Linked DNA regions of Homo sapiens: region 1 is linked to region 2. The links come from fine-mapping of genetic effects on gene expression. A gene starts in region 2. The other region holds a variant in brackets. All regions are shown on one strand. Distances are between the middles of the regions. Region 1 overlaps OAF (out at first homolog). Region 2 holds the start of POU2F3 (POU class 2 homeobox 3).

Evidence for each region. PIP is the estimated chance that this variant, and not a neighbour inherited with it, causes the effect.
Region 1: its variant is the best candidate, but not a certain one, in a credible set for the expression of POU2F3 in transverse colon (GTEx, PIP 0.67).

The regions. Positions count from the first base shown.
Region 1 is chr11:120,215,140-120,220,504 of GRCh38, reverse strand. The region is part of intron 1 of OAF (out at first homolog); the gene reads right to left. Among named protein-coding and RNA genes, the nearest start is that of OAF, 6.8 kb to the right of the region's middle. RefSeq lists a cis regulatory region at 2,388-2,401 and enhancers at 2,322-2,466, 2,283-2,866. The variant G/A (reference allele first, on the strand shown) is at 2,485.
Region 2 is chr11:120,236,768-120,242,132 of GRCh38, reverse strand. POU2F3 (POU class 2 homeobox 3) reads right to left here and starts at 1,993. Exons shown (of 13, transcript NM_014352.4): 1 at 1,762-1,993. The coding sequence starts at 1,789.

The sequences.
Region 1 (5,365 bases), 22 kb after region 2:
CTTCTTGAGCCAGGAAAAGTGGCTTGCTTGAAGTGCATCCCTGCCCCCTGGAACACAGCAGGTGCTCAATAAACATCTGATAAGGAATACATGAAGGGTGAATGAACAACAGCATGGAAGAGTTCTCTGAGAAAAGCGGTGGGAATGTACTAGGGGAGGAGGGGAAGGGTCGTGAGTGCTGATGAGGCTGGCAAGGGGTCAGGACACAAGCAGGACGCAGGGTCTGAACCAGGCTGAGGAGTGGGAGGCTTCCTCTTGTGCCTCTCTGGAAGTCACTGGTGGGTTTGAGCCTGGGGTGACATGAGGGACCTGTGGTTTGGAGCTGAATCAGACTCTGCCTGAGGTTGTGAGAGTGCCTTGGATCTCAGTGCCCCAGTCAGATGGTCTCTGTCCTCATGGAGCACCTTCTGCCCAGGCAGTTAGTCATCCAAGCCCTCTGTGACCTGCCTCTGGCTCAAGAGCAGCGACTCTAGCCTATTCACATGGTGACCCTGGGGTCTGTCGCACAGCTGGGGCTCAATGCTTAGTAGCTGGAGGAACGAATGAATGCTCTAGGGCCTCCATCAACCCACTGGCCTCCAATGTGCAGACACTCTTTCTTCTCGGCCTTGCCTGCAGCTGGGCTCCTGCAGGCTGATAGTGCTACAGCTGCTATTTTGGCATCTAGAAGGTTTAGGGGATCATCTAGTTCATGGCCCAGTGAGGTTCCAGCAGGGAAGTAACCTTCATGAGTCACACAGTGGCAGAGCCAGGGCCAGAAGCCTAGACCTCCTGACTCTGAGTCCAGTGATCTTCATGCTTGTCCTGGCTCCCCTCCGTAGCCCTTGTCCAGATACTCAATTCCTCCCTGTGCCCATCCCAGCCATGCTGTCTGACTGGGATCCACCTGTGTCTCCAGAGGGAAGGCTGCTCTGGTTCAGCTGCACTGGGGGAATGCGCTGAGAGACGGCAGAGCACCCCTGGGCAGACATCCTGTGCTCAGCACTGAGGGTGGGGAGGGAGCCCCTGGATCCCAGGGGATAGCGGGGCTGTCACACCAGCCCTGACTGGCTTCCAGACTCAGATAACACTGGGAAGAATGAAACAGGCTGTTTTGCCACGGCCTCAGCCGCTGTTCCTGGGGGTTTATGTTGCTCACGGCTGAGCCTAATCTCAACTGATGCACAGGCTCACACGGCTTCCCCATTCGCGCACACCGTCCTCTTTCACAGACAAGCTGGGTCTCAGTCTCCTTCCCGCAAGGTCTCCCAGTGGCTCCTGTTCCACATTCCCATTCCCTCCACAGGGGTGCATCTGGGCCTGTCTCCTCCCTCAGTCTCCCTGTTGCCGGCAGAGGCGGCTCCCCACCGTCTCATCACACCCCTCTCCGCAGTCCCCACGCCCACCCCCCCTGTGAATTCCCCATCTCATGCCCAGCGTCAGGGCACACCCCGCATCACCCTCCTCACTTGCTCGATTCTCCTCACACGCCTCCTCCCGATGCCACTTCTCATAACGTGTGTACACACACACACACACGTGTACATGCGTGCATGTGCAGGCACACACTCTTACCGCATGTCATCACCTTGCTCCAGCCTGCCCGGTCTCCTCTGGCACCCTGCCTTCCCATCACGGTCCCTAGCTGGCCCCACTCTCCAGGCGCTCTTCCTCAGCCCCTCCCCAGAAAGCCCTGGGGTTTGGGGGGAGGCCCGCCTGCAGGAGAATGGAAAGCAAAGGGGGCCAGGGCAGCAGACTGCCCCTTCCCTCCACACCCTGCTTCCAGCCACCACTGTCCAGTGCTGGTCATGGCCCAGGCTGCAGGTCATCGCTCTAGGGCCACACAAGCCACTTGGCCCCCTCCCATTCTTCCAACCCTCTTGCTCCTGGACAGCTGGCGCTCTCTCCTGGGAGTGTCCTCTGCCATCTTGGTCTCCTTCCTGTCACACCAGAGAGCATGATTCTGGGGCCCAGGCTGAGCCAATCTAAATATTTATTCCTCTGCTCCTGGCTGGGGCTGCTTTATGGCTAGAGAAGTGGCTGGCTTCGCTGGGCTGGGGAGGGGAGAGGGGGTTTAGCCTGCAGAGCCAGCCAGGAAGCAGTGCCTTCCTAGCCCCACGGCAAAGCTGGAAGCACCCTGGCTGCTCTGCCCAGGCTTCTCGAGCAGGAACGGGGTGGATGGATTCCACCCAGAGCCAGGCCACGCACATCCCGAGGCCAGTGCCCAGGGACCTAGGCCGCCCCATGATGAGATGCCAGCATCCCCTCAGGGCTAGGCCTGGACAGAGGCTGCTTGTCTTGGGGCATTAGCACAACCACTCACCCAGAGCAGTGCTCCTGCCCCCAGCCCCTCCCCAGAGCAGTGCTCCTGCCCCCAGCCCCTCCCCAGAGCAGTGCTCTGTCAGCCGAATCCCAAAGGTCACCACTGTCCTGACTGCTGCAGGAACAATGTGAGGCTTTATGTGGATCAACTGCGCCCCACTGTGCTGCTGACTCAGTGCTCCT[G/A]AGACGGGTCTCCATGCTTCCCTCTCACCCGCACTCCCAGCCCTGATGCCTCTCCCTGCCCTTTATCTGAATCCCTAGTGGCAGCCACTTCAACACTTGCCAACTTCAAGGATGTTAGCTCCTCATGATGCTTTGGTCCCTACAGCAGAAAAGCAGCAGCTGCAGCAACATGCTTAACGGTGGGGTAGACGGACATCCAAGCGGGCACTGGCACCTCACTCCTCACATGCCCACGCGGGCCTCTGTTCTGCGAAGGGCCTCTTAGTCACTGCGCACACTGAACCCCAAGCATCACACTGTTGTCTCTGGTGTACCGGCAAGGAGCCTGGGGCTCAGAGAGGTTAAGTGACTTGCCAAGTCACACAGTGGGTAAGTGGCAGGAAAAAACGTACATAGTGATTGCTCACTAGTGTCTGTGAGATATTTTCTTTTCTTTTTTTTTGAGATGGAGTCTCACTCTGTTGCCCAGGCTGGAGTGCAACGGCGTGATCTCGGCTCACTGCAACCTCTGCCTCCCCGGTTCAAGTGATTCTCCCGCCTCAGCCTCCAGAGTAGCTGAAATTATAGGCACACACCACCATGCCTGGCTAATTTTTGTATTTTCAGTAGGGACAGGGTTTCACCATGTTGATCAGGCTGGTCTCGAACTCCTGGCCTCAAGTAATCCGCCTGCCTCGGCCTCCCAAAATGCTGGGATTATAGGCATGAGCCACCACACCTGGCCTTGGTGAGATATTTTCCAAACTCATCCCCCTCACCCAGCTCCCCAAGAGGCCATGCAGGGGAGAGAGGAGTTGCAGGCATGGCCAAGTAGCCAACACTCCATCCACTGGAGGTAAGAGCGTGGGGGAAGTGGTCCAGCCCAAGTCTGTACAAACGAGGGTCTCTGTGGATTTGTTCCTCTGCACCAAGGTTTTTTCCAGCCTCCTTCTCCCCTCCACCTCCCTCCCCAGGGTTCTTTAGCCTACTGGAAGGAGCCCACTCATGGTACCATGGCAGACAGGCAGTCAGGATATACTGGAAGGAACCCTGGGTCCTAATCTGGGATCATCAGCTGCTTCATCTTGTCAGCCTCACTTGAGAGCTCCAGGCGATCAGATAAGAGCATGTGTGACATGAGGGACTGCTCAATGGGTGATCTCCAGACCCTATGCAATCCTCACTTCAAGGCTGGGCCCTCCGCCAGCGGAACAGGAGTCTGTCCTAAGTTTATCTCCACCACCTCTCTGTGCCTTGGGAAGCCTGGGAGGGAACTAACTCACTCTCCCCACCAGCTTCCCAGCAGGATCCTCCATTATCCCAGGTGGCAGTCTTCATGGCCTACCGGGATCTTTTGCTAGGACTCCACCTGGACATAGCATTCAGGGGTGGGAGATGCTGGCCAAGCTCCCGGGAGGGGGTCTGAACCCTCAGGCAGGGCTGGCCATCCTGATCTGAGGAGGAATTCCTCACACGCAGAGGAGGGACAGATATTAGACCCAGGAGCCCCATGTCAGTGAGCCTGGTCATTCCATCTGGCGACTTCTTGTAAATACCTGTGAGGAAATGCTCTGAGCTCCAGAAAAGTCTGGGCCTCTCCCGAAAGCACCTCCACTGCCTTTTCCTCCCCAAGGAGACTTTCCATCCATCAGATGCTTCCACGCCAAATCTTAAGGGTGCTAACACAGACAGGGTAGGGGCAGACTGGGCCCTGAAAGCTTCTCGGTCCCACATCTATGTGCTGTGATATCTCCTTGGGATACACGTTCTTAGGTGGCAACGTGGACATTGCACATTCCACATCTTTACTGACTGCACCTCAAGGCTTCCCATGTTGCTCCCCCACCCACAGACCAGGCCCCCCGGCACAGGGGCCCTAGCATTCTTTGGACTATCCCTTCCTCTGGCTCCCACTCACTCATCAGTGCCCAGGACAGGGCTCAAGCTTCCATCCTCCATGGGTCCTTGTCCCTTCGAAGCGGCCCTGAGCTGACCCACACAGCTGTACAGTTCCCCTTATCTTGCTTATTCCCTCCAGGGCTCCAGCTGTGGGCCTTCAGGATCCCCTCCTTCCACACTTTTGGAGTCTGTGTCTCCCTATCCTCCCTGATGCTGGGAGGGGAAAGGGACCCCCACCGCCCACCACCGTGATGCCATCACACATGACCTTCTTCATATCTGTCAGTATCACCCTCCCCATCCGGTCAGCCCCAAGGCAGGCAGCCTGGAGCGTGACTCATCCTCTTCCCAGCTTTTGGCCACTCGGACTAGGGGACAGAGGTGAAAGAGAAACTGGCAAGAATACCAGCTTCCAGGAGGTAGACCAGAAGGGCTGTCAAATAGCCAGTTTAGGGAGAGGGGATGGTGACACACCTATGATTAGATATGCCAGTGATTATGTACATCCAGGGCTAATTACACCCATAGGATGTGGAGTATAAAGGAGAGTGTTGCCCACCAAGGGCGCGCTGTGAATTAGTTTGTGTACTGAGGGCACACAGCATTAGGCCCGAAGTATATGTGCTGCTCAAAACACATTAGGATTAGTGTGGGTAAGATGACAGGTTTCAAATATGTGACTGAGTTTGGGCCCTACCCTCATTTAACCTGAGCTGGCTCCTTCTCCAGGTCCCCTCCCCTCCCCTAGAGCAACTGCGCCAGTGGTTCCCAAACTTTGCTGCACACTGGAATCACCTGGGTTCTTTTGTCACCCAGACTGGAGTGCAGTGGCGCGATCCAGGCTCACTGCAACCTCCGCTTCCTGGATTCAAGCGATTCTCCTGCCTCAGCCTCCTGAGTGGCTGGGACTACAGGTGCATGCCACCATGCCCAGCTAATTTTTTTTTATTTTTTATTTTTTAGTAGAGACGGGGTTTCGCCATATTGGCCAGGCTGGTCTCGA
Region 2 (5,365 bases):
GGGAATGGGCTGGGGAGGGAGCAGGCAAATGGAGAGAGATGAATTGGGCAATCTACCCCCAGGTACATGGAGATCCCGCCCTGAGGAATCACCCCACCTGGGGTTTAGCTCAGTCTCCCCCCATGTGTCGGGAATACCTGCTCACAGGGACAGGGTGGAGAAGGTGTCTGGGCTTCTGAGAAGCATCAGCCAGGAGCTCACTCCTGGGGAAGGCATAGAGGCCAAGCCCTATGCCTCAACCTCATCCTCTGGTGTTCTCTGCTCTCTGCTATATCCTCTGAGGCCCCAGGCTGCCTCCCTGCTGGGTCCCAACTGTCCCACCCCCTCCCACTTCCACAGAATGGGAGCCTCCAGTAGACAAGGAGGTGGAAAACCCCCAGGAAGTCTGTGATCTTGGTGCTAAAAAACTTCCCATCCACTGCTAAGCCCACCTTTCTGAAGAGACTTGCTCCCATTCAAACCCTGGCCTTCTCTGCGGGCAGTGAAGGGGAGAGCACCTACCCGGGGATCTGCCCCAGGTATGCCCAGTCTAGAAACAGACTTTCCTCAGACTCTGGATGACACCCAGTTGGATGGCTTCTTCCGCCTCACCTAGCCTTTCTGGCACGTCCTGGAGAGCCACTCAGTGCCAACATCTCACTGCCAGTCTGCCTCTCACTCAGCCCTGCCAGGAAACAGCATCTGGGGAACTGGGCACTCCAGGTCCCCTCCCTCCGGGCACTCACTGACGCTTGTTTTCAGGCTGGGTAGGCCTCAGGCCTGCTCTGCTTCTTGGGGTGGGTCTGGAGCATTGCCTCCTCCCTACTCTCCCAGAAAGGAGACCAGGTAACAACATTCCCATCAACAGCCCCGAAATCCTAAAGAAAGATCACTGGGTCCTGCCCACTTTGAGAGTAAGTTGCTAGGTTAGAAATGGCCAGGTCAGGTACCGCTTTCTTCACTTGTTCTTTGCTCAGGCCCTGTGACCTCCAGAAGGCCCACCCTAACAGGAAGCCCCAAGCCAAGCCCAACCTGGCTGCCTGGCAGCTCCTGCCTTAGCCCAGCTGTGGAAGGAGGAACAGCAAGGTGAATGGAGGGGCTGGGTTCCCTCCATGCCCACCTCTCATTCATTCATTCAGGGAAGCCTGACTCCCGGCAAAGCATTTGCATCTCCTAGGTTTCCACCCCTTAGGGAAGGAAGGCATGGGACATGGAACCCAGAGGATGTGTCTGTCACCATCCCTTCTCAAACACATGGGGGCATGGCCCCTGCCCCAGGGGCACCTCTGTAATTGCCCCACCTCAGCCACTTCTCCTAAGCCCCCCAACCACCTAAATGTCCGCTTTGCCTCCATTTCACACATATGCCCGGACACCAGCACACAGCATGTGGACATACACATTTCCCTCACTTATGCACTCCCAGGTCCACACCCCTGGCTGAGTGAGTGAACCACCCATCCCTGCAACCTCCTGAGACTATGACAGTTCAGTACACCCACGTCCCATACAACTGCCACTCCCCAGACCGGGGGCTTCGAAGCCCTCCCGCCCTTCACCAGCCCCCACCCTCATTCTTTTCCAGGGTTTCTTATCCCAGATCCCCTCCCTTTAGTCCCCAAATACTGACCGGCACCCACCCCAGGACAACCCGCTATCCACACCGCCCTCTCCTGGCCGCTGGGAAACAAGCCCCCCTCCCTAACCAGAACGTTGTCCCTCTCCTTCACCCCTGCCCACGCGCAGTGACACCTGTCAGAGCTCATTCCCTCCGCCCCTCACCTGTGTGCATGGACTCCAGATTCACCATCCTGCCCCAGGCGGGGCCAAAGCCAGCGCCCCCCCAGGCCCCTCGCCTCTGCCCCAGCCGGGGCCCCTGCGAAGCCAGGGTCTCCTTCCTCCAGTTCCCGGCCGCCGCCGCCGCGGGAGCCGCTGCCGGAGCCGTCGCCGCCACTGTCGCGCGCTCCGCTGCTCCGGCCCGGGCAACACTCGGCGCCGCCAGGATTGCCACACTCCCCAGGTGAGCACGCGGCGCGGGGCGGGGGCCGCCGGCCACGCCCCCTGGCAGGAGCCCCGCGCCTGGCCCCAGGCCCATGCAAAGCAGTGATTTGCATACATGGAGCTGGGGACCTGGGGAGGGGGCCGGGGGTGCTGCCGGGGCGGGTCTCGATCCCGCGGAACACCTGCCTGCTCCAACCCAGCCTGGCAGCACCTCCTCACCGCGCCCGGAGTGGCGCCAACTCCTGGTCCTGCTCGCCCTTTTTAGGAAGCCCTGGCGGGTTCTCCAGCCTGAGCCCGAGCTTCCTTCTGGACAGATCGCGAAGTGTAAGCGCTGCAAGGAGTTGGAGTGTTTGGAGAAGTCGCGGGGGTCTGCTGGAAAGAATTCAGTTTTGGAATCTCGCCTCCCAACCGCTTACCAGCAGTGTGGCTGGGACAAGGTTCTTCACCTCCCTGAGCTCATTTAACTCACCTGTAAAACAGGACAGGTGCTAATCGGGTTCCCTATTGGGCTGAGCAGGTGACCAAGCTCACCTAGCCCCCATGGCATCCTCACAGCATTGTGGGATTTAGACGGGGTGCAGTTTATTATTAGCAGAGTTTCCAGGTGCACACAACTGCTTCCTGCTTGCCCCTCCAGTCTCCCGCCCCAGGTCCCAGGTTGCTGTGAGGCTCTACGAGATGATGGATGTGGAAGTTACCAGTGCCCAGGCTTTTGGTGACAGCCACCTTCCAGAGCGGGGAAGCGGCTTGCTCAAAGGTGCACACTTCCCTAGTGACAGAGCCTGGCTGGAATCAGGTCTCTGGACTCCCACTCCAGTGCTCTTTGCAGCACCCATCATAGGCTCACCCCTTTCTCTTCGTCTCTTCAAGTCCCAGTAAGTGGTCTGTCACCACAGGATGGCCTGCATGGAAGCCCAGAAAGCTGTGTGCAGACAGGAGGGCAGGGCCTCGCTTTCCTTCCCAGACAGGACTCCTCATGAACATGTCTTCTCCTTAGTCCCATGGGCTACTTTCTGAGCACAGAACAGGTTTTGGGCTTTCCTGCCTCTACACCTTGTTTACAGTGTCCTTTCCCCCTGGCACGCCCATCCCACCGTGCACTCCAGTCATGCCCACGATAACACCCAGCATTTCGTGTGCCTTCACTGTGTATCAAGCACTGGGGTGACCAACACTTGAAAGGCATCTTTCGTGCCTTTAGTTCTTGTTTAGTCCTCAAAACCTGTACATTGTACTATGATTATTGCCATTTTATAGATGGGGAAAATGAGGCTTAGAGAGTTTAAGTTCCGTGTTCTTTTTTTTTTTTTTTTTTTTTTTTTTTTAGACAGAGTCTTGCTCTGTTGCCAGGCTGGAGTGCAGTGGTGCAATCTCGGCTCACTGCAACCTCCACCTCCTGGGTTCAAGCGATTCTCCTCAGCCTCCTGAGTGGCTGAGACTATAAGCACGTGCCACTACACCCAGCTAATTTTTGTGTTTTTAGGAGAGACAGGGTTTCACCACGTTGCCAGGATGGTCTCGATCTCCTGACCTCGTGATCCACCCGCCTCAGCCTCCCAAAGTGCTGGGATGACATGTGTGAGCCACCACGCCCAGCCTAAGTTCCATGTTCTTAACAGCCTTCGTGGCAGGTTCTGAGGGCCTTTTCTTAGCTTACCCCCTGGTTGGTAACTGATCAATTGCTTCATTCTAGTGCCAGCACCCCAGCACCTAGAACAGGGCTGGGCACACAACAGGTATCAGAAAGTGTTCTGTGGGTGCTACAGTGGCCCCAGAGGAACAGGAAGCACTTAATTGCTTCTTCAGGTCCACATACACCACCCTCCCCAGTCACATGGACCTCCCTTCCCCACGCTCCCGAAAAGAAGGGAGGAGAGAAACTTCTTCTTGCTTCTTTTTCTTTTTCTTTTTTGAGATGGAGTTTCTACCTTGTTGCCCAGGCTGGAGTGCAATGGCATCATCTCGGCTCACGGCAATCTCCGCCTCCCAGGTTCAAGCGATTCTCCTGCCTCAGCCTCCCGAGTAGCTGGGATTACAGGCATGCGCCACCATGCCCGGCTAATTTTGTATTTTTAGTAGAGACGGGGTTTCTCCATGTTGGTCAGGCTGGTCTCAAACTCCTGACCTCAGGTGATCTGCCTGCCTCGGCCTCCCAAAGAGCTGGGATTACAGGTGTGAGCCACCGTCCCCTGCACTTTTTCTTGTTTCTTCTGGGTGAGGAAAGAGACCAGCAAGGGCTTATTGGAGGCCCAAGGGGGTCCCTCTCAGGACACTCTCAGCCTCTGTTCCTTCCTTCCCTCCTATTCAACACTCCCCCAACTCCCATCCCCTTCTGGCCTTTTCTTCTCCTCCCCAACTTCAGGTTTGGCCCCTTCCCTGAAGTCCATTTCTTACCTACAACTGCACTCACCTACCACCATTCTGGAAAAATGCCTGCACACAGCTTATATACCCCTGTGTGCTTGTGATTTCCATATCTCTATTTGCATATTATTTGCATGGCCATGTGCACCGAGGGTCTCATTCTCCGACCACCTTATCTGGGGCCCGTTGCCCTTTTTCATGTGCAAAGTCACATTTCTTCTCTGGGCTTTAGTTTTCCAAAAGTCAGAGAGGCCCATATTTGATAATTTCAAAGGGCCTTCTGTCTCCAGCAGCCTAGGATTCTGGGGTTCTGGGGGGAATGGGGATATGGAGTTCTTGTGGGGATTGGGGTGGAAGCTGAGGCACAGATAGGACCTTGGAGGTTCACAGCTGGAGGCACAGCTTTGGGTTCCAAACTTGGAGTGTGGAGGTAGGAGGATGAACGGGGCAGAAGGGGCTGGGTGGGGAGAGGATAGCAGATACTCCCTCACATTCATTCATTTACTCATTCACTCAATGAATATAGATTGAGTGCTTCCTACGTGCCAAGAACTGTGCTCCATGCTGAACATACACCATCTGATTTTAGTCAGTGCCACTTTAGATGGAAGGTACAATTATTAGCCCTGCGTTACAGATGAGAAAACTGAGGTTCAGAGAAGTAAACGCAGCTAGTAGACTACAGAGTTGGTATTTAGACCCAGGGCTGCCAACCCCAAAGCCAGGATTTTAGTCCTGCCCTCCAGTTTCTGAATCTGAGCTTCCCCTTCTCTTATCAGATAACGAGGTAGAAAGAACCTAGATATCATTGAACCCTTCATTTGAGGGACCTGAGGCCCACAAGGAGGGGGACTTACCCCAGAAAACAGAACAAACATATGGCTCAGCAGAGACGTTTCTACTCTTCCCTGCTTCTCCCTCATGTGCCCTGAGGCTTAGAAGGCTGGGGTGCCCTCTAAGTCCCACCTGTGTATAGGGTTGAGGGGGAATGGTGAGCAATCTTTATTCCTTCTCTCTCAGA